Linked DNA regions of Homo sapiens. The protein of the gene in region 4 purifies or fractionates together with the protein of the main gene of each other region. This does not show direct contact. Each region holds a gene or a part of one and is shown on either strand. Other genes may lie near its edges.

What was found.
Region 1: the proteins of HMBOX1 (region 4) and AMOTL1 purify together in Homo sapiens (affinity purification with mass spectrometry, with the first as the bait; one large-scale study listed by BioGRID). This does not show direct contact.
Region 2: the proteins of HMBOX1 (region 4) and GRHL1 purify together in Homo sapiens (co-immunoprecipitation; one large-scale study listed by IntAct). This does not show direct contact.
Region 3: the proteins of HMBOX1 (region 4) and CDADC1 purify together in Homo sapiens (affinity purification with mass spectrometry, with the first as the bait; one large-scale study listed by BioGRID). This does not show direct contact.

The regions. Positions count from the first base shown.
Region 1 is NC_000011.10:94,863,624-94,869,409, reverse strand, and holds part of AMOTL1 (angiomotin-like protein 1), read right to left. Parts: intron 4,676-5,786; coding exon 4,550-4,675; intron 3,469-4,549; coding exon 3,242-3,468; intron 213-3,241; coding exon 1-212. UniProt on the Homo sapiens protein: Inhibits the Wnt/beta-catenin signaling pathway, probably by recruiting CTNNB1 to recycling endosomes and hence preventing its translocation to the nucleus.
Region 2 is NC_000002.12:9,988,444-9,994,229, reverse strand, and holds part of GRHL1 (grainyhead-like protein 1 homolog), read right to left. Parts: intron 3,535-5,786; coding exon 3,483-3,534; coding exon of another isoform or gene 3,447-3,482; intron 2,224-3,446; coding exon 2,084-2,223; exon of another isoform or gene 1,914-2,083; intron 1,256-1,913; exon of another isoform or gene 1,024-1,255; coding exon 986-1,023; exon of another isoform or gene 1-985. UniProt on the Homo sapiens protein: Transcription factor involved in epithelial development. Binds directly to the consensus DNA sequence 5'-AACCGGTT-3'.
Region 3 is NC_000013.11:49,284,828-49,290,613, reverse strand, and holds part of CDADC1 (cytidine and dCMP deaminase domain-containing protein 1), read right to left. Parts: intron 4,393-5,786; coding exon 4,332-4,392; intron 1-4,331. UniProt on the Homo sapiens protein: Catalyzes the deamination of cytidine and deoxycytidine into uridine and deoxyuridine, respectively. May play an important role in testicular development and spermatogenesis.
Region 4 is NC_000008.11:28,896,192-28,901,977, reverse strand, and holds part of HMBOX1 (homeobox-containing protein 1), read right to left. Parts: intron 1-5,786. UniProt on the Homo sapiens protein: Binds directly to 5'-TTAGGG-3' repeats in telomeric DNA. Associates with the telomerase complex at sites of active telomere processing and positively regulates telomere elongation.

The DNA.
Region 1 (5,786 bases), on a different chromosome or scaffold from region 4:
GCTCAGCCGGCCGCGGCTGGGAAGGGAGGCCATGCTGGGCCAGAAGAGCTCGGCACTCTTGTCAGTCTGTGTGCTGCTGTCCTTGCTGCCTGTCTTGGCGTGGGCACTGCTGGCTGCCGTAGTGGAGGCTATGGAGGACAGTGCTGAGGTGGGTGGGGGTGGCAGCAGTGGGGCAGAGGCATGCTCATGGTGCTCCTTCCCCAGCAGCAATCCTGAGGGCAGAGAACAGATTTTTCAACATTCTTTTTTTCCTTTTTTTTTTTTTAAATCTAGTCTTGCAGATCTGTTCCTTGTTGATTGATGATTGCTTCATTCATTCATTGATTCATTCCCCAAGCATTTAATAAACACTTATTACAAGGCTGATAAAATAACAAACACTGAGAGAATAAAAAATGGAAGACCTAGTCCCCTTCCTAAAAAATTGTAGGTTTTTTTTGTGTGTTTTTTTTGTTTTTTTTTTTTGGAGTGGAGAAGTAGTTGTCAAGTAAACTGATTATAACTTAATATATAAACTGTAGGATACAAATAAATTATTCACAGGGTGGTATGGACGAACAGAGAAGTGCCTAATTGCCAGCAGGAGGGGTAGGGAGGTTCCCACAAGGCTTTCCAGAGACCATGCTTGCTGTTACCAACGTGGCCCAGAAGGGCTGGCCTGAAGCGTGGCAGTGTGCTTAAGAAAAACTACAAGGCTTCCCCGGTCCTAGACATGTTCCCATTGGCTTGCTGCTCTTCTGAATAGTTCACAATTCCACCCCACTCCTTGTAATGGATGATGGTCCCCCACAGGCTTGGATTCAAAGATAAACATGCTACCTGCACATTTCTGCGGTGGAACTGTAGCCTCCCAGAAGCAGAAAGCCAGCCAGCCTCCTAGGAAAGGCCACTTAGCCCTCTCCTTACCCCCTTCCTCAAGAGTAGTGAGGCTGGGGTGGGGAAGAGGGGATGCTGGCTATGGAAATGGGAGGCGTGGTGTGCAGAGGTGTCCATTTTCCTCAGAGCCTTCCTGGAAAGCTGGGTGGGAGGATAACTTTTTATTTTTAAATACAGCACACACGCGGGAAAGTGCCAGCACCCTAGAATGCTAGCCTATAGAAAAGGCGGTAAGCGCAATCAAGTATTTGTTCTCTTATCTGGTTAGATAGCCAGCAATTCATAAAGTATCCTCGCCAGAGCTGTTTTAAGGTGCCCATTTAGAACTCAGGGCAGTTCAGTTTGTCGAGAGCAGTGCTTTTCAAAATGCAATGTGCATAACAATGACTTGGCTATACCGTTAAAAGGAAGACCTGATCCAGCAGGCAGGGCCTGGGATTCTGTATTTCTAAGAAGCTCCCAGATGGTGCTGGTGCCACTGGTCCACAGACCACGCTGAGCAGCAAAGGCCTTCACCTGCGCTTCCCACATCATCTCACTTCATACTGCATGTCATTCCTGCGAGACAGGCCTTATCCTGTCTTACGGAGAAGGAAATGGAAGCTCACAAAAACTAACATCTCACAGCTAAGAAGCAGCAGAAATGGGACTCAAACCCAACTGTGCCTGACTTGGAGTCCAACCTATGTTCTTTCCACTTCATCGCCCAGCCTGTGGAAACTCCAGAGTCTGCAGGATGTCCTCGTAGGGAGTGACAGGCTGAATAAGTCACTAGCCAGCCATAGCTCCTGGGATACCCTGGGCAATTGGGAAGGTATATGCTGTCACCTCCACCTCCTTCCAGAGCCTATCAGGCAAGCAATGGTGACAACATGTGGGGAACTGTGCAGTCACCCATGAACCTGCCTCAGCCCCTTGGAGAGTCCCTGTGTTTGTGACACGTGGACACCAATGACAACAATGAGGAGGAATATCAGTGCAGGGAACACAGCAGCTCTTCCTTCAAACAAGTCCTCCGGCTCCCAGGCCTGGTTTAGACATGCCAGGTCCTGGGGCATACGGGCACAGACACCAGAGATGCCTGCCTGGCTGCACGTCACAAACAGGGGACTCCCAGGGAGGTTGCTACCAGAGCTGAGCAAATTTTCAAACTCCTTGACCAGGCCTGGCTCAGCACTGCCTCCCAGCTCTCTAGCTGGGGTGGGAGCTAAATGTCCTTGGGACAGTCTTTGATGATCTCAGCTGCTGTCCACACACGTCTTCTTTGAAGTGCATTTCCTTTGGGGGCAGGGGCTGCTGAAGCCACCAGTGGAGGGACTTCAAACACAGATTCTGGTTGGGAGCCTTTGATCCCCCCAACTCTGTCGGGTTCATATGGAAGCTCTTATCCCCTCTGGCCCAGAGCAGCCAGTCTCCTTTGGGGTCTTATGCTGAGGACCACTGGCTCTCAGCTGCACAGAGAAACAAAAACACGATCTGATGTGGGGAAATGCATCAAAGAAGGGCCAGACCCCTGGAGAGGCCAGAGTGCAGGGGAAGGATGTGGAGGACCTGTGTCTGAGCACGCTGCCTGCTTCCCCTCCAGCTTGGCTAGCCCAGCCAGCCAACAAGCCTGCCTGCCCCCAAGAAACCTACTCCTGGCTAAGACCACACTTAGGGAATTCTGCCCATGCAACAACAATACAGCAAAAACTTACCACCCCTACCTTATGCGAGAGAGCACTTCTTCCAATGTGCTCTCCCCATTATCCCATTCTTCCCTCCCACGCCCCATGGGGTAAAGCAGGCAGACACTGTCCTCCCCCCATTATCCCATTCTTCCCTCCCACGCCCCATGGGGTAAAGCAGGCAGACACTCTCCTCCCACCATTATCCCATTCTTCCCTCCCACGCCCCATGGGGTAAAGCAGGCAGACACTCTCCTCCCCCCATTATCCCATTATTCCCTCCCACTCCCCATGGGGTAAAGCAGGCAGACACTGTCCTCCCTTTCCAGACGTGGAAGCAGAGGTGGAGCCGTCATACAACTGGTCTAGAGCAGAGCCAAGTTCAGAGGCGTGATGTCTCTAGGCTTTTCTATGAGAGCCTTTTGTGTTATAAGGGTCACCTCAACTTACAACAATAATAGATAATTCTGATCTGAGTCAACCCATGGCTAAGAGCTACTCCAGTGGTGCAGTCTTTAGAATTTACACAATGCTTCCACATATCTATAACTGAAGTATGACTGATTTCCCTCCCCACTTCACAGATGAGTAAACTGAGACCAGGAACTATTCAGGGACATTTCCGTGTCCCATGAGTGGCAGAGAAGCTGTCTGGTCTTGCTTTTCCAATCATGGTCTGACAGAGGTGTGGGGCTCACCTATGCTCCCCTTCCAGGTCTTCTCTTCCTTCTTTTCCTCAGCCAGCTGGCTGCTGGTAAGAGAGGTCTGGCGAGAGTGTGTCCCAGTAGCTGCTGCTATGGATGGAACGGAGCGGGCAGGACGTAGGCTGGAGGAGTCTGTCTTCCCGGCATCTTTACGAGATCGCTGCTGCAGGACCTTAATCATAGCATCTTTCTCTATGATTTTGGCATGGAGATTTTTAATACTGTAAAACAAAACAAAACAGTCTCCATAAAAAGCCACTTGGCTAGAAAAACTTGAAACATTTATCTCAGGCTGTCCCAAAGACTTTAATTGTAATTTAGGGATACAGGATGAAGCACAGTACGAGTCTTCAAATGTTGATAATCTCCAAATTGTTAAGACAGGTCTTTTGTCATATGTCAAAAGAGTACACCTTCTCTGGCACCTTGGGAGACTGGGACTTCAGCGAGGTACAGTTAGAATGACCGTGGCCACATTCCTGGACCGAAGTCGGCTGGGGACCATATTTAGAGGGTCTAGCATTGGCGGTGGGGGCCGGGGGTAGGTAGGGGATAGGGAAGCATAAAAACTCTAAAGCCTCAAACAGGGTGAGCTTTCAGCTAAAGTCAATTTCTCTATTTTCTAAGAAAAAAGAACCAAGATGAACAGGTTCTCTGGTAGAAGATGATTTTTCTGGAAGAATGCTGAGTTATTTTCACAACTTTGATAGTAACTCACTGAGCCTATCTATCAATGGCTCAACTACTCAGCCCTATTTTCACATCTGCAAAATAAGAGGCCTAGGGCTCCCAGGGTTCCACAAGCCCTTAGGTAGTGAAGGGGGACAGGCTAGTTTTATTATGTCAAAAAGTCTGCTGGAAATTTTGTGTAGCCCATCAGAAGAGTGCATTAGCTAAATATGTTCTTTATTTTGGACTGGAATATATAAATTCTGGCTCAAAAACTCTGAATCTTTGGGATATAATGTTTCCCCCTTTCAGCTCATAATGTCATAGAGATAGACACCAAGAAATAACACAGACATCTAAATTCTTCTGTCACTAGACTCAGCCTGCATCTTAAAACCGGCAGGTGACACGCAATTTCCCCCAGAGAACTCCGGCACCAGATCCATTGCTGAGTGGAACCACGTGCTTAGGTTGGAACCTTTTCCTTCTCTCCATGGCACAGCATGGGGGAGGAGAGTTTTTGGAGACCTCATGCTCACAGCCTTTCAGAACAGGACAGAGAAGCAATCTGTTCTGGAAGGCCTGGAGTGTGAATGCAGCGGGCCCCACACGTCACACATAGTCGTCCCTTACGTGTATTCCATGTCCTGACACCTTCTGTTGGCCTGCACCACCTCCTCCTCCTCTTGCCAGATGTGGGCCTCCAGCGAGCTCTCTCCGTAGCTGCCATTCCGTGAGTGGTTGATGATCGTGGTGTCCCTGGCAACACAAGGATATGCGTTTGATCATAGGAAACCTTCTTGCTTTGTCTCAATGCAAACAGACACAGAATGGAGAGGCTGGTGTTCATGCTGGAACAGAGATCAGCTCTGCATCTCGCATTGGCTCATGAAGCCTTTCCCTCCCAATTTCCCCAGCTCAGTTATCAATCTCATCTGATGCCCATACAGAGAAAGGTGTAAATGCTTGTGGAGAGGTGATCACAGGGTGCCGTGCTAAAACTCCACAAACTCCTTCACCCACTTTTCCTCTCCTGAATTCTGTCCAATTCTCTTCCTTAACTAGATAGAATTAAGCAGCATCTAAGGAAAACAAAATAAAATTCAAAAATCAAGTCCCCTCCCCCTTCTGACTACATTATGTATGTAGCTACATGGCATGTTATGAATATGTAAAATGGGCACCTAGAGATTTAATCTACTGACTTATGGACACTATTATTATTATTATTATTATTATTATTGTATTTGTTGGTGTTTCCATGCTTGTACTTTTTCATGCTTGTCCTATACCTCACTTTTCCAATCAGAGTTTAGGTTTTATTTCTGTTTATCATCCATACAGCATAGAATGCCTACTTCAGTATTTTACAGTAAAATGGGGGCTCAGTAAATACTTAAAACTGAGACTGGTCCTCTCAGAGAGTGAGGCTCCAAGCTGAAGTCTTCCTTCATGTTGTATTCTGTCTCACTTCTTGTTTTATGGGCCCTGCCTGGGATGCAGGTCAGGACAATGTAATAGGCATGCCAGGGTCCAGGACAGAAAGAAGAAGGCAGACACTGTCCTTGACAAGTTCAGGTGAGGTGGGTGCAGTGAGGGCAAGGGCAGACACGAGAAGATCAAGAAGCAGTTTCACTGCAAGCATCTGTCTGACTATAAACAACCAGTCACAGATAACTATTCCTGCCACTGGTTTTGACAATTTAATTACTACTAACTAACAATGATTAGTAAAAATAAGATCACTGCATCATCTAAGTGATATAGCTCAAGATGAAAGGCACAATAATGGCTCTGACTACATGAGTATTTAATTAGTAAGACATGATGTAGCCAAGTATTTCACATCTTTTAACTTCATATTCCAATG
Region 2 (5,786 bases), on a different chromosome or scaffold from region 4:
AAGGCTGCAGTGAGCTGTGACTGCACCCCTGCACTCCTACATGGGCCTCAGAGCAAGACCCTGTCTCTAAAAGTAAAATGAAATAAAAACAAAAAGAATCTTTGCCTTGTTGAAAAAGTCCCAGAGCCATCAAGAAGGTTCTGATAGCCCAAAGAGGGGTAGCGTCAGCCCCCCTCCACTAGGCAGCATGAGTAGGGGGCTGCCCGGCACAGGAAGGCAGAGCCCAATTCTGGGACAACCTGAGCATCAAAGTAAATGACTAATGAATCACAGCTTATTGAATAAAACAGGAAACTATGAGTTCATACTGATAGCAATAAATGAACGAGTAAACTGAAAGTTTGATGGGGAATGAGATATTTACAAAGCTACAATGCACCTCCCCAGACAACACTTACTATAAAAGGAGCCACTTTGCAGTGGAGAAGCTGGCAGATACCAGCTTAATCAAGTGACCAAAGAACACCATTAGTAACAGATAAACTGACATCAAGCGCCATCTGCTAGGACACACGGAGAACCCAGCCTGGCCTCTATGACATCCCTGCCAGGCCTGGAATCTAACCATGAGAGAGCAGCAGACACACGCAAACTAAGAAGAGTCTACAAAACAGCTGGTTGTAATCTTCAAAAATATTTGGTCAGAAAAGTTAAGGAGTGGCTTAGTTCTAGACTGAAGAAGATCAACAAACATGACAAACAACTACAATGTGTGATCCTGAACTGGATCCTTTTTTGCTATAAAGGACATTATTGGTGCTAATGAAGCAATGTTAATATTCTAATCTTGACTGTGACACAGGAGGATGTCCTTGTTGGTAGGAAATATATACCACGATATTCAGGAGTGATGGGCCATCAGGCTGGCAACTTATCCTTGATGGCTCAGGGAAAAATGAGTTCTTTGTACTGTACTTGCAGTTTTTCTACAAGTTTGAAATCATTTCCATTATTAAAACAAAACAAAACAAAACATAAATCTTACCCTTCACCCTCCAATTCTTCAGAGGCAATGGGAAGGACCTAAGACCAAAGGAATAGATTGCTTTTCAAATGTATGCTCAAAATGTTTGGCCATAAATGAATTATTCCTAAAATGGAAATAATTTTGAATTTCACCAATCTAATATAAAATCCTTTAGCCTTAGTTTTCAATAACAGATTCTTACAGATGTCTTGAACTCCTTTAACTCAGTGGTTGGGCCAAATCTGGTCTAAAGCCAGTTCATGTAAATAAAGTCTTTACTGAAACAAAGCCACGCTCATTCATTCACATGCTGCTTATGGCCATGTGTGCACTAGTTCGGCAGCACTGAGCAGCACAGTGGAGACCACGGGGCCCCAAAAGCTGAAAACCTTTACGGCCCAGCCCTTCACAAAAACAGTGTGCTAACCCCTGCTCACCTCCAGCTTCCCATTAGAAACTAAATGTACTGGCCATGGCCCCAAGAACTCTGACGAATCTTTAGTCCTTATAAATCTGTCCACAAAGTGCATGAAAGACTGTCTTTTTGATATTTATTTGCACTCAGCATAAAACCATGCTTCATTCTACTGAAGTTTCTATCCCTTGTAAGCCTTTGCCACAAAACAGGGCGTGACCATTTTTTAAAATTTAGTTTTAGTTGCCAAGACATGGCCATTGGTAACTACACGTGGCAAGGACGGCTCAGTAACTGGAACTGTGAGAAAAGCCTTCGGATGTTCTTATGTTATAAGAGCTCCTTAACCTAGGTATTGCCCCAAGTTAAGTTTAAAAAGATGACAGGCTCAAACTCCAAATTATGCTACTATTCTAGAATCTTTTAAATGAGCTAGGATATGTAGGTATGAAGAACGAACGAATGAATGAATGAATACAAACAGAATAAAGCTGACAGGCTGCACTGCACCTTGAAATCAGCGATGCTTACCATTTTTATTGCACGGGCATCATGTCACCCCAGCAGAATATTCCAAAGAGCTGACTAACTGGTCAAACCTCACTCAATTTTGGCTTCTGTTTCCCATGAATAATGCCAAAGAATTTCCTTTTGCCATGCCTTCCTTCCTGGTAACCTCCCCTGGGATCCTGGTTACCTACATGAGTGCCCCGCTGCAAGTTGGCAAAGTGCACGTCAGGAATGAAGAGGACAGGCTGAGTATCGAGATCAATGAAGGGTTTGAAAACTGTGATATCCATTCGCTTGTGAGAGGGAAGCAGTGGCACTTTAACATCAGAAACTGAAAAAAAAAAAAATTAAAAAAGAGGAAGCCAAGGTCAAAGGATTACATACAGACTGGATGCAGGCCACAGAGTGCTCGCCTCTGAGTAAGATACTCCAAGTGTAGCACTCTGTAAGATACAACAGGGCACGCTGCCTGCCTAAGAATCCCAGTTTATGTAAAGGAATTTGTTGTGTGTATTTCCACTAAAATCAACTGAATGTCTTATCAAATCAAAAGGGAAAAGGTATCTTCAAACACACACAGACGCATATCCACAGAAGATTTGCGACAGAGGCAGAGCGTATTTAGTTTTCATTGGAAAGGCTAAAATGTATAATTGTGTAAACATAATTTGGAAGAAATTTCACCTCAGCTGTCCTCATTAAATAATTTACATTCCAACACTCATGGACCCATTGACTTCAGAACATATCAAGAAACTCGACAATGAGGTGAAGTGTAAGCATGCCCATCCAATTTTTAATTTAGTAAGTTAGAGACTCCATCTTCCCCAATGATCTGGCTGGCCCTGAAGTACTCAGTAATGAGGTCTCCTAGTTAGTCAGCTGCTCTCTGAAGTGTCACTGGGAGTTTGTACTTTGATACCAGTAGGAGAATCCTGACTAAGGTGTTGCAGGGCAAATGTCTGCTGAGCCAGACAGACCATTCAAAAGAGCTGCCAGAAGCCCATGTACTACAGATGGAACCCTACAGGCACAGAACAGCACTTTCTTCATTTTAGATACAAGATTTTGTGAATATGAATACTGGTCACAATTAAAAAAAAAAGAAAACAAAGCCTTCCTGGTGAAATGTCCAAACAGAAGCCCTATAGATTCTGCAAATATTAAAATACTATACTTTAGATACAAAATATGATCTTACTTGGAGTTAAGACATCTTGAATTCTCAAGACCATTATTATTACTTTAAAAAATCTAGATAAGTCCCAATTTTAACAGTGATTCATGCAGAACGTGTTGTCATTTTTCAAGACTGGAAACAGAAGTCTGAACTAGAACTGAGAGCCAAAAACGCTGAGGTCGGGAAAACCCAGGGATCTATCCTGTAGTCCCCAGGAAAACCCCTCCCGCTGAGCTGGCATCTGCTGCTGATCTGAGGAAGAGGCAGTGCCACACTGCAGAACAGGAAGAACACCCACTGTCTTCTGCGTGCAAACTCCAGCCACCATTCTCAATGGAAAAGGTCTGAAGCTTGCCGGGAACATTTCTACTTACAGGCATTCACCTGGGAGCTGGGGTCAGGACACTTGCCTTTTCTTTTGCTTTGCTTTCGTTCTTCATCCCTGATTTTCCGCTCAGCTCCCTGTAGGTTAAGAGAAGACAAGATATGATTCTGTTTTCCAATCTTCTTTAAAATATTTAACTCTTATCCTGACCAATGGAAGAAGAAGCCTTTCTCCCTTCTCTGGACAGGAACCCCATTACTTACTATATTCATGAGGCTTATCATAGTAGTTTCTTCTAAAAAGATTAGTCTTAAAATTATTTTTAATTCTATGAAATCACAGGGAACAACATTTATTTGAAAAACAAATAAAGCAAAATTCCGGCCGGAAGCGGTAGCTCATGCCTGTAATCCCAGCACTTTGGGAGGCCGAGGTGGGTGGATCATTTGAGGTCAGGAGTTCGAGACCAGCCTGGCCAACATGGTGAAACCCCACCTCTACTAAAAATACAAAAATTAGCCAGGCGTGGTAGCGGGCACCTGTAGTCCCAGCTACTTGGGAGGCTGAGGCAGGAGAACTGCTTGAACCCCTGAGAGGTGGAGGTTGCAGTGAGCTGAGATCACACCACTGCACTCCAGCCTGGGTGACAAAGCGAAACTCTGTCTCAAAAAAAAAAAGCAAAATTTCTCCTTATAATGGATGTGGTCGTGTTAAATGAAAGCTGAGAAAATCTGTGAGTATACCACATGCCTGCAAAGACACAAGGGTATTTTCCCTTTGTCCAGTAGGAAAAGGAAATGAAAGAAAAAACCCAAGTTGGCCCTACTCTTGAGTATACTCTCCTATATGGCCAAGGTTATCACTGAAGGCTGTGATTCAGTCCAAGGGCCTGGTATCAACCATGTGGCAGATCTAACCAAGCAGAATTCACAAAGTGAAGATGGAACTAGAAATATGCATCATCACTTAAAAGAGAACAAGTGGGCTGGGCGCGGTGGCTCACGCTTGTAATCCCAGCATTTTGGGAGGCCGAGGTGGGTGGATCCCTTGAGGCCAGGAGTTCACGACCAGCCTGGCCAACATGGGAAACCCTGTCTCCATTAAAAATACAAAAAATTTAGCCGGGCGTGGTGATGCATGCCTGTAATCCCAGCTACTCGGGAGGCTGAGGCAGGAGAATCAGTTGAACCTGGGAGGTAGAGATTGCGGTGAGCTGGGATCGCACCACTGTACTCCAGTCTGGGTGACAGAGTGAGACTCCCTCAAAGAAAAAAGAGAAAAAGTGTACTCAGAGTCCTAGAAAAAGACACTCGTGTACTCTGTATATCAACTGCTCAAAGACCGATAGTACCATGCAGCTGAACCCACAACAACAAAGTTCAAAAGAACCATATTAGTAACAAACACGGCCCAAAATCAGGCAATGAAGCATATTTAAAAACATTACATTTAATCATTTTGCTTGACTTATTGGAATTAATTTCTGGATGGTACAGATTTCTTTACATAGTGCTCCAGTTAAGGATGAACTGGTAGCTTATTTTTCTGTTAAATAAATTTGCTGAGAGCAAAAAGAGGCAATAAAAATCCCACTGATCTTATTAGCATTATTATATAATAAGGACCACATTTTAAAAACAGAATATAAAACCACCTTCTGCCTTTTCTAGAAGGTGGTAGCATACTAACATAGTAAATATACAACCTGCTTATAAAAATTGCTATGTAACATTGACACAACAGTCCCTCCCTGACACAGAAAAACAGGTAAATATCCCCAATCTCCTAGCCATTATTGTATGAAGTTGGTCTGGGTCTCTCTGTCCCTTCTAACAAGTCTAACCATAACTTCATTCTGATGATAAACACCACCCTCCTCCAAAAGGTGGAGGGTGCAGTCCTATTACAAAATAGGACTGTCCCTCCTTATTTATCTGTGTATCTATAAAGAATAAGGTATTTCTGTTTCTACATAACATGGAGTAACACAGATCAGATTTACCCTCCACCCTGAAACAACAACAAAAACCAGACGAAATGCAGAAACAAGAACGAGAAGGCCCTGACCAGCAGGCAACTAAAGAACAGTGATCCCTGGGAGACAGGAACCCGCGGCAAGTCCTCAAACCATGCTGGCTGCTGCCTTCAGAGTTCCCAGGCCATGGCATGGGAATTCTCATGTATTCTCAGTCCAGGTGCCCAGGTTTGAGGAGACAGAGCTGGAAGTCCACAGAGACCAAGGCAGCAGGACAAAGTACCAAAGAGGAAAGAGCTCCGAGATCTTCAGTGAGCCCCACTCCAGTACGTGGCCGGGTACCAACAGGTACACAGGTACCAGGAAGCTGCCCAAGGCTGGGGGTCAGGGTTGGGAACTGACATCCGAAAAGAT
Region 3 (5,786 bases), on a different chromosome or scaffold from region 4:
CTTTCTGCCCCTTTCTTCCCATCTTTTGAGGGATTTCCTGCCCTGAGCCTGTATGTTCTGCCCTGCTGTTTCCTTGTCCTAAGGACACCTGGGCCAGGGCTCAGACTTGCCTTCCAGAGGTAGATCTGGAAAGCCACCCCTCTCTCTTTCTTGTTCTCATCATATCATGTAATATTTGAAACATTCTCTCTCTCTATATATAATGTATTATGTAATATATAATAATACATACATAATACAGATGGGAGTTCTAAAGCCTAACAATAAAATGAACACTCATGAACTTACTGCCCCAAAAGAGTTACAGTTTGTTTAAAACTGAATAAAACTACATTATGTGTGTTGGGGGGAGATGGAAAAAAAACAAAACATACTGCCGAATCCAACAACTAGAACATTATCAATTCCCGTGCGCTCCCTCTCTCGTCCCATCCCCTTTCACCCCACTCAGAGGCAACTCCTATCTTGATTTTTGTGTTTATCAATCGATTGCTTCTTAACAATAACTTTACTGTATATACTATATATTAAAGTATATTTTATTTATTTATTTATATATTTTTTGAGACAGGGTCTGTCTCAGTCTGTTACCCAGGCTGGAGTGCAGTGGTGTGATCTCAGCTCACTGCATCCTCAACCTCCTGGGCTCAGGTGATCCTCCTATGTCAGCCTCTGCGGTAGCTGGGACTACAGGCACAGGCCACCATGCCAAACTAATTTTTTGTATCTTTTGTAGAGATGGAGTTTTGCTGTGATGCCCAGGCTGGTCTTGAACTCCTGGGCTCAAGCAATTGGCCCGCTTCAGTCTCCCAATATGCTGGGATTATAGGTGTGAGCACCATGCCTGGCCTACCACATTTAACCAATATATGGTATGTCTTTTTGAACTTTATACAGAAATGGTATCATAATTCTGTAGTTTGCTTTGTTAAATTCAACATTTATATTTCTAAGATTCATCCATGTTGAAGAATGTAGCTCTAGTTCATTTGTTTTCACTGCTATATGGTAGTCCATTGTGGGAATACACCATAATATTTTTATCTAACCACCCAAAACAAACATTTGTGTTATTTCCAGTTTTTGCTTTTAAAAACAATATAGCAACAAATTCTTTGTCTCTCTGACTCTTATACAATATGCAAGAGTTTCTCTAGGGCATACGCTTATAAAAAATGCTATTTCAGGCCAGGCGTGGTGGCTCATGCCGGTAATCCCAGCACTTTCGGAGGCCAAGGCGGGCAGATCACCTGAGGTCCAGAGTTTGAGACTAGCCTAGCCAACGTGGTGAAACCTCGTCTCTACTAAAAATACAAAATTAGCTGGGCATGGTGGTGCATGCCTGTAATCCCAGATACTTGGGAGGCTAAGGCAGGAGAATCTCTTGAACCTGGGAGGTGGAGGTTGCAGTGAGCCAGGATCACGCCACTGCACTCCAGACTGGGCGACAGAGTGAGACTCCGTCATAAAAAAAAAAAAAAAAAAAAAAAAAAGCAAAAAAAAAGCTACTTCCGTGCAATGTTAATTTGCATTTCTCTGACTACTAATAAGTTTAATCATCTTTTCATGTGTTGATTGGGTGAACTAAGTTCAGTTCACTCACCTTGCAGCAGACCCAGACCTGATCTCAGATCCCAGCTTATATGGACATTTGTCCCCAGGATAGCTCTGGCTATTGTGTTCGCTTACTATTGCTCCTCAGATTCTAGCAAAATGCCTTCTTATCTCTATTTTGTTCTTAGGAGAATATTTCTCTTATTTTCTTGAAAGCTCCATGACTCTTTAAAAAGAATGCTTGTTATGGGTTACCTGGGTTCCATTTGCATGGAGTGGAAGGGCACTTGAGAGTTGTCAGTCACACTGCCTGCCTTCCTTCTCTGTTTGTCCCTGCTACTGGCACTGAGAGAGTATCCAGCAGCAAGTCCCCCTCTGAGTTAGACAGACTGATTTACCCAAAAGTCAAGCCCCAGTCTAACAACAAAGCTGGTGTTGTAACTTTCATCTGTTGATTCTGGTGTCTATTTCTCAACTGAATCAAAAATTGGAAAGGAATTACATACTGTATGATTCCATTTATATGAAATGGCCAGAATAGACTAATCCATAAAAACTGAAAGAGTGGTTGCCTAGGGCTAGGGGGAGTGAAGAATGGGGAGTGACTGCAAATAGGCATGAGACTTCTTTCTCAGATAATGAAAATGTTCTGAAATTATGTTGTAGTGATGCCTGTACAACTTCGTGAATCTACTAAAGAAGCAAATTTATGATAGATGAATTACATATCAGTAAAACTATCATATAATTAAAAAGGAAATGGGGTATTGCTTACTGAGATCAAACACTTGTTCAAAAATGCATAAACATAAACTTAACTGTTCAGTTGAACTGTCACAAAGCAAACATATGTAACCATCATCTGGGTCAATAAATAAAACATTGCCAGCAAACCAGAAGCCTTCCTTTTGTCCCCTCCTTCCAATCTTGGGGCTTTAACCACAGCATGTCTTCCTTTTCCTTAGTAATCTAGGAATAATAAATCCTAGATACAAGCCCTTTGTTGATTATAAGTGGCAAGTATCTTCTCATATTCCATGGCTTGCCTTTGCACTCTTGTAGTGATATCTTTTTTTTTTTTTTTTTTAAGGCAGGGTCTCACTCTGTTGCCAAGGTTGGAGTAGAGTGGTACAAGCATGGATCACTGCAGCCTCAACCTCTTCATGCTTAAGAGATCCTTCCACCTCAGCCTCCTGAGTAGCTGGGACCACAGGCATGTGCCACCACAATTGGCTAATTTTTGTATTTTTTGTAGAGAGAGGGTTTTGCCATGTTGCCTAGCCTGGTTTCAAACTCCTGGGCTCAAGCAATTCACCCACCTCAGCCTTCCAAAGCACTGGGATTACAGGTGTGAGCCACTGCACCTGGCCTAGTAATATATTTTAATGAACAGATATTCTTCATTGTAGCATAGATAAATTAACCTTTTTATGATTCGTGCTTTTTGTATCCTTTCCCTAACATAGGAAATTATTCATTGGCCCCTTCAAACACTGTCATTGAGTGTACATTATTTAATCAGATGTATAGATAGACAGAGAGACAGACCGATAGATAGATAGATAGATAGATAGATAGATAGATAGATAGATACAGCCTTTTTTGCTAATAAATTTTTAAAAAGAAAGATGCAGTGGATATGTACTTTTTTCCAAATTGCAAACAATACATTTTCTATTTGAATCAAATAAAGCTAATTCAGAACACTGAAAATCAATATATTCACAGAAAAATTATTCTAAGACCTTTATACTTCTTGATTTTTCAAGGTTAAAAAATTGTTATTATCAAGAAAACTTACAGAAAACTTCCATTTACTTCAAATCCAAATAATTCGATAATATAGTTACTGTTTTATTTTTATTTTTAGAGACAGAGTTTTGCCCTGTCGCCCAGGCTGGAGTGCAGTGGCGCTATCTCGGCTCACTGCAAACTCCACCTCCTGGATTCAAGTGATTCTCCTGCCTCAAACTCCCAAGTAGCTGGGATTACAGGCATGTGCCATGATACCTGGCTATTTTTTGTATTTTTAGTGGAGACGAGGTTTCACCATGTTGGCCAAGCTGATCTCGAACTCCTGATTTCAAGTGATCCCCCTGCCTTGGCCTCCCAAAGTGCTGGGATTATAGGCGTGAGTGACCACACCTGGCCTATAGTTACTATTTTAGAATAATATTATATAGCACTCATATCTAAAATTATGTGCCTAAAGAATTGTAAGACTTCTCAAAGATTATATTACATTCAAAATATCTGTAGTAGTATACGAATAATAAAGCTTTAAAGACTAGTAATTCATTATGGTAGCTGTGATGATTCTTAGTTAATCAGATTATTCAAGTTACCAGAACATTTCCAATCTGGGCAAATGTGGGTTTACTCTAGAAGAATGTATATATCCTCATCATTTGGTCCCAATCCATCTGTACTAATTATACATATTTTTCCTTTCTCACTCCCCAATAAGCTTTTGTTTTGTTATAGAAGAGCATTGCTGTTTACTGTTTCATATGCATTTAATTTATAAAGTCAATTTGTGCATAATTATTTGTATTAACCTGTAGATTCTATAGGAGTAATTATTAATCGGCACTTTCCATAGCACCTAGCATATGGTAGACCCACAAATATTTATGAACAAATTGAATGGCAAAAATCTAACCTTCAAAAATAATATGCTCCATCTATTAACACAATTTTCATCACCTGATCATTAAAATTCACTGTATATCCTTTCTCCTCAGCAACAAAGTTCACCTCAATACATAAATACTTACTTTCTCTCCTTTCAGGCTCATTTTGTTCAAGACCATAAGCTCCTGATGGATTCAGCTGCCACTGTAAGAGTGCACAAACATTTTACTTGTTTAAAGAGGATTTAATACATAGCATTCCAGCACATTGATTTTAAATATCAAAACAACTTCTTAAAAATGGAAGAAAAATGGCTGGGCATAGTGGGTCACACCTGTAATCCCAGCACTTTGGGAGGCCAAGGTAGGTGGATTACCTGAGTTAAGGAGTTTGAGACCAACCTGGCCAACATGGTGAAACTCCGTCTTTAATAAAAATACAAAAATTAGCTGGGCGTGGTGGCACGCGCCTGTAGTCCTAGCTACTTGGGAGGCTGAGGTAAGAGAATTGCTTGAACCTGGGAGGTGGAGGTTGCAGTGAGCTGAGATGGTGCCACTGCACTTCAGCCTGGGTGACAGAGCAAGCCTCCATCTTGAAAAAAAAAAAAAATTAAAAAAATAGAAGAAAAAGAAGTTAGCATGTTCAAATTAACAAAGCCCTAATAACGCCACACTGAGTGATCCTGAATGATATAACTTCTGGGATCCGAATCAATACTCTTAGAGAAGTTGAAGATTCTTTACATTCATTTTAATTGGAAGTAAGTGGAAGACCAGAGGATTGGAGTGACTTGTCTCAGGTTACACCCTAACTACAGGAGGCAATAGAATTAGAACCCATGCCCAGTACTATGGAATTAACATCGCATTGTATTCTATCTCCAGGTCCTAGAGAATCTTATAATAGCTAGAAAAGGCCTAGGTATTAAAGAATGAAAATATGACCAAGATAGGCCATGCACAGTGGCTCACGCCTGTAATCCCAGCACTTTGGGAGGCTGAGGTGGGTGGATCACGAGGTCAGATAGAGACCATCCTGGCTAACAAGGTGAAACCCCGTCTCTACTAAAAATACAAAAAATTAGCTGGGCGTGGTGGCCGGTGCCTGTAGTCCCAGCTACTCGAGAGGCTGAGGCAGGAGAATGGCGAGAACCCGGGAGGTGGAGCTTGCAGTGAGCCGAGATTGCACCACTGCACTCCAGCCTGGAAGACAGAGCAAGACTCTGTCTCACAAAAAAAAAAAAGAAAAAAGAAAAAAAAAAGAAAAGAAAAAGAAAATATGACCAAGATTACCTTGCCTTTTAATGTTGTTATATCATAAACTATTACCTGCATCATATCATTTTATATCATATCATATATCTCCTCTGATTACTGTATTTCATCTCAACCATTCAGGAATAAATAGGGAAGCCTGAAGATTCACAGATATTACATAGAATATTGGGGCAGGAGAAAATAAAAATGGAGAGTAATCGGTATCTTATAGCACAGCCCTTCTTTTCTCAGCTGGATAGAATCTCTATCAGAATCACTAATGACTTAACCAAAAGGCCCTGCTAGGGCACCATCTCAGGACACAAATATGGATTACCCGGG
Region 4 (5,786 bases):
GAGGTTCACTGGGATATGTCTCTTCAGACAGAAGGATTTAACTGGGTTTTAAGTATAAGGTTTTAACTAGTAAGATAAGGATATACAAATACATTAAGTGGGTAAGGTAGCAAATGCCAAGAAACAAAGGCTGAAAATATACAGCAGAAGGAAAGGTAATTTACTTGAATGCAATACAGAAAATGACTTCTGGAATAAGAAAATAAGACATGGAAAAGGGAGGAAAGGAAATGTTAGCAAACCCATCACAAAGCACAGGGACGAAAATTTGGCATATGGCACAATTTGAACTAAGGTATAGTAACCTCTTAAATGACTTGATGAAAAGTTTGATAAAAATTATTCTAAGAGTGCTGTGCACCATGGAATAGAGTAGGGAAGTGGCAGGAAGGCCAGTTTTACTGCTGCAATCATCTCAACAAGAAGTAATGAGGATGGCAACTATAGACAATAAAGGAAAAGAATAATCTAAGAGATGTTATGGGGTGAAAGAATCAGCAGATCACTGACAAATTAGGTGAGAGGAGGAGGGAGAAAAGTACAAAAAGAAAAGTACTAAAGGGAGATTTAAAGCCTTCAAATCTAGGAACTTCAAGACCAGAGGTAATTTTAACAAGAGAGAAAAGAATGATGGAAGAAACACTTGTATAGAAAAAATTTTAAGGGGAAATATTACATCAAATGCAGCTAAGAGCTAAAAAAGGAAAACTCAGAAGAAAATAAATACACAAAGAAAAAATAAATTAGCCAGAAAGGGATTATTTGCAACAAATAGAGAATTCTAAAGATTAAGGAGGGGAGTATTACCTAGGAAAAAGAACAGGACAACTAATAATAAGATAAGGTGTAACAACCACTACTCTAAGCACTTTGCAAATGTTGAATCATATACTCACAAGAATCCTATTATGTATATGAATAAATAGTATTATTTATCTATGCCCAGTTTACAGATGAGACACATAGAGGTTTACACAAAATTACAGGGTTAAGTAGTGGAGATCAGATTTGCACCTAGACAATATGGCTCCAAAGTTCATGTTCACAACCAGCTCAATATTCTAAGAGTAATTAAGACTCCAAAAAGAATGACAGACCTTAAAAGGTGAGAAATTAATTCATGAGTGCAAAGGTTCAAGAGATGGCTGATATTCCAAAGTATATAAGGTTAAAAAACAAACAAAAAAAACTCGCTTACCAGATCCAGAAAATTAGAATAAAGGAGAACTTAATGACAAAAGGTGGGAATAAAAAAAGACTGTCTTCTTAAGAGTTCATATACAAAAATACAGAGTTTAAGAAAATGAGCTGATGCCATAACCATAAAAACTAGATGTTTAGGGCATAATACTGTTAAGTACAACATCTAGAAAAATAATCATATTTACGCAAAATATAGCCCATGTCACGATCTACTGACATAAGCAATCAGAGAGGATGGACACAGTGTTTAATATGAGGCAGGCAAATATCAGGAAAGAAACACTCCCAATTATAAACAGATATTTGAGACTTCCACAGAACAAAGCATATAATAGGTTCTAAGTAGACATTATGCTGTCTATGCATTTTCCAAGCATTCTGAGGACTATACCAATTAGAATTACCTGATATACTTATGAAGGATATATATTCCTGGGCCCATCTCAGATTTTAGGAATCTGGGGGTAGAACTCAGGAAACAAAATATATATATATATATATATTTTTTTTTTTTTTTTTTGAGACGGAATCTTGCTCTGTAGCCCAGGCTGGAGTGCAGTGGCGCAATCTCAGCTCACTGCAACCTCTGCCTCCCAGTTCCCAGTTCAAGCAATTCTCCTGCCTTAGCCTCCCGAGTAGCTGGGATTACAGGCGCGCCATGATGCCCAGCTAATGTTTTAGTATTTTTAATAGAAACAGGGTTTCACCATGTTGGCCAGGCTGGTCTTGAACTCCTGATCTCATGATCCGCCCACCTCAGCCTCCCAAAGTGCTGGGATTACAGGTGTGAGCCACTGCGCCCAGCCAGAAACTAAAATTTTAATACTTTTTCCAGGCAATTCTTCAACACAAAAGTTGAGATCACTGTTTCCTTCTGTTGTAGCCTAAGTGCTTAGAACTCTGTGACTCCCCAACTATTTATCTCCTGTGGCTTTGTAATCTGACTCCAATCTTCTAGGTTCCTTAGTTGCCTATCCTTGACTTGTACTTATTTCTAAAAATCTTGGCCCTGGTTTGGTAATATAATAAAGACTTGGATATGGAAATTTTAGCTCTGAAGTCCATATAAACTCCAATACTGACATAGGAATAAAAAGCTCCAGTTCCTTTCCCTGAAATCATGGAGCTTTTGTTAAATATCACCTATGGTGTTGACTGGACATTGGATTGACCCAGTATGTCAATTCTTTTGTTGCCAGATCTGCAGAGAACAAGATGCTCACTACTACAGACTCAACTATTTGAATTCCTGCTTATTGTCTCTAAAGAAAGAAGGCACAAATTTTCTTGTCAGGGATGAATGACATTTGCTAAGAGAACAGTTGTCACTATATAGATAGAGGGTGCCTATGAGAATGTTCCAGTTCCTAGAGTAGTGATGAAATGAGTTCTCCTAAGATGTCTCTAGATCTTAATGATGGGACAAAAGAATGTCTACTTGATATGAATAAGAGCTTCTTTATTCAATAAGGGATAGTCTTTGATAGCAGCAATGAGGATCCTGATACAATGGCTTCTAGATACTTTCATGCTTAGTAGGTTAGTGATCCAAACTGTAGAGATAGTACGTTCATGTATCCAGGGCTACCTCTCATTCTCCTTCCTTAATCCTAGCTAGTTCTTATAGTCCTACTTTGTCATCTTTCTGGTTTGCCTGAGGTGACTAGAATAAAAAGCAAATCTTAAATTATAGGAGTCTTTTGCTATTTCCAGCAAACTGATCCTTGCAGAAAAGGATTAAATCCAACCTATCTTTGTATCCCACAAAGTACCTCATCACGCACTGCTAGACTTGACATGTTTAACTGAGTGCCTTGTTCAACACCAACAAGAGAACCCTCCTCATAAAAAGCATCTAAAAGCTTAAGCCTCATATAAAAGGTGCTTTCCACGCTACCTCCCACCAAGGTCACGGGATAAGGATAGACATTTAAGTCATGGTGGTCATGCAATGCATTCAGATTTCTCTCTTGCCAACTGAACTAAAAGAAACACACTGTCACCATCAACAGGTAAACTCTAGTTGAAAGAACAGTTCAAGTCAACACCATGGCAAATCAAATCCACTTACCAGTCAGAGAAGCAGAGACTATGAAAAACCAGGGCAATACAAACAGAACTGGAAGGGAGAAGTGAGAAAGGGAGATGAAGCAGACATGGAAGGAGATGCTGAGACAAGAAACCATTTATCACCAGAACGAGAGCTTGAGAGACTAGCTTCTCAGATTCCTAACGTTTCTCCCATTCACACAAGGTCTAGTCACTCTTCTTCAACCCAAAACAGCTGAATCCCTACAACGCCTGTCCTTGAAGCCAAATGATCCCTAATTCAAGCATTATTTTTTAGTACGTACACCAAGACAAATAGAAAGCTAGAAACATAAATCCAAGGAGGAAAAAATAATTCTACCAGGAAAAAACTGAAATCACAGGTAGCCAAAAAGCTTTGTAAATATGAATCTTATTTATCAGGAAGTACCATCAATATTTGTCATATTCCTGCTAATGAAACAAATTAAACTTTGTCTTTTTTTAATAGAAATTATCACAGTATTGACAAATGAAAAATTGTCTCAAACCCAGAGAAGACAAAAATCAGGTGATCTACCTTTATTTGTTAATACATTTGAAAATATTTTGTTAGCCTGTTTAAAGCAGACTTCCGTTGTTGTCTGTAATAATCGATAGTATATTGGATTAACAGCCTCATCTTTTAAGACAGGCTTTATAATCATATGGCTGATTAAGGGGCAGCAAAGTATAACCAACCCTGTAACTATCCTTTAACTTGTACCTAACAAAAATAGTAACCATAACCTCCCCTTTTATTCTGTAAAGATCCTTTTTCTGAAAATATCTTTGAACTAACTTCCTTTAAAGCTAGTTCCCTTGCAACAAGTACAAAATAAAACTATGACATATGCTGACAATCAATTAATCTGACAAGTTTGCATTAACACTGTCAAAACCAAACTAATGTCAAAATAGCTGTAATTTTGGTTATCTAACACAGATTCTAACATATCCTCTCTAGCAACAAACATACCATGTAAGCCTTGAATTTATTTAAAATTTAAATCTTTTTTTGTTTGTTTGTTTGAGATAGAGTCTCGCTCTGTTGCCCAATCTGGTGTGCAGTGGCGCCACCTTGGCTCACTGCAACCTCCGCCTCCCAGGTTCAAGTGATTCTCCTGCCTCAGCCTCCTGAGTAGCTGGGAGTACAGGTGTGTGCCACCACGCCCGGCTATATTTTTGTATTTTTAGTAGAGGCAAAGTTTCACCATGTTGGTCAGGCTGGTCTTGAACTCCTGACCTCATGATCCATCTGCCTTGGCCTCCCAAAGTGCCGGGATTACCGGCATGAGCCACCACGCCCAGCCTCATTTAAATCTTACACATTTTATTTGTGGACAATTTCAATGTTATCGTTAACTTTTACCAGAAAATTTTAATGGGTCCTAATATTATAATTCCTCATTTAAAAAAAAAAAACTAGCCGACCAGTGGCTTACGCCTGTAATCCCAGCACTTTGGGAGGCCAAGGCGGGTGGATCACCTGAGGGGGGATTCGAGACCAGCATGACCAACATGGAGAAACCCCGTCTCTATTAAAACTACAAAATTAGCCGGGCATGGTGGCGCATGCCCATAATCCCAGCTACTCAGGAAGGCTGAGGCAGGAGAATCACTTGAACCTGGGTGGCAGAAGTTGCGGTGAGATGACATCGCGCCATTGTACTCCAGCCTGGGTAACAAGAGCGAAACTCCATCTCAAAAAAAAGAAAAAAAAAAAAAACCTAGCCAATATTCAGATTCTCATAACAAAAAAAAAAATTGGTATGTTTGCAATGTCAGGTTCATCTAAAAAATAAACTTTTAAAAGAAAGTTTAAGTGGAATTTTTCATAAAAACTTTCAGGATGTGCCAATGCAACACTTAATGACAGAGATACACTCTGAGAAACGCACCATTAGGCAATTTCATTGTTGAGCGAACACCATAGAGTGTACTTACACAAGCCTAGGTGGTATAGCCTATTGCTCCTAGGCTACAAACCTGTACAGCATGTTACTGTATTAAACATTGTAGGCAACTGTAACGCACTGGAAAGTATCTGTGTTTCTAAACCTTGGAAAAAGTACAGTTAAAATATGATATAATCTTATGGGACCACTGTCATATATTCAGTCCGTTTTTGACTGAAACATCATTATGTACTACATGACTGTATTACATAAGGCAAAGAGTGAAATTACTGATCCAATAATTGGTTATCTTTCTCCTTAGCTATATTGACAAAACAACAGAACTTATGAAGAGGAGGAGAATCATTCAATCTTTGCAGTAAGAGTTCTGTACCTTGATTTTGGTGGTGATTATGCAATCTACACACCTGTGATAAAATGGCATAGAACTATACACACACATTGTACTGATGTCAATTTCCTGGTTTTAATATTGTATTAAAGTTATGTAGGATGTAACCAATAGGGGAAACTGGGGAAAAGTTACAGTGCCCTCTCTATTTTTGCAGCTTCCTGTAAACTATAATATGCCAAAAGCATCCTAAGGACTTGCCAGCA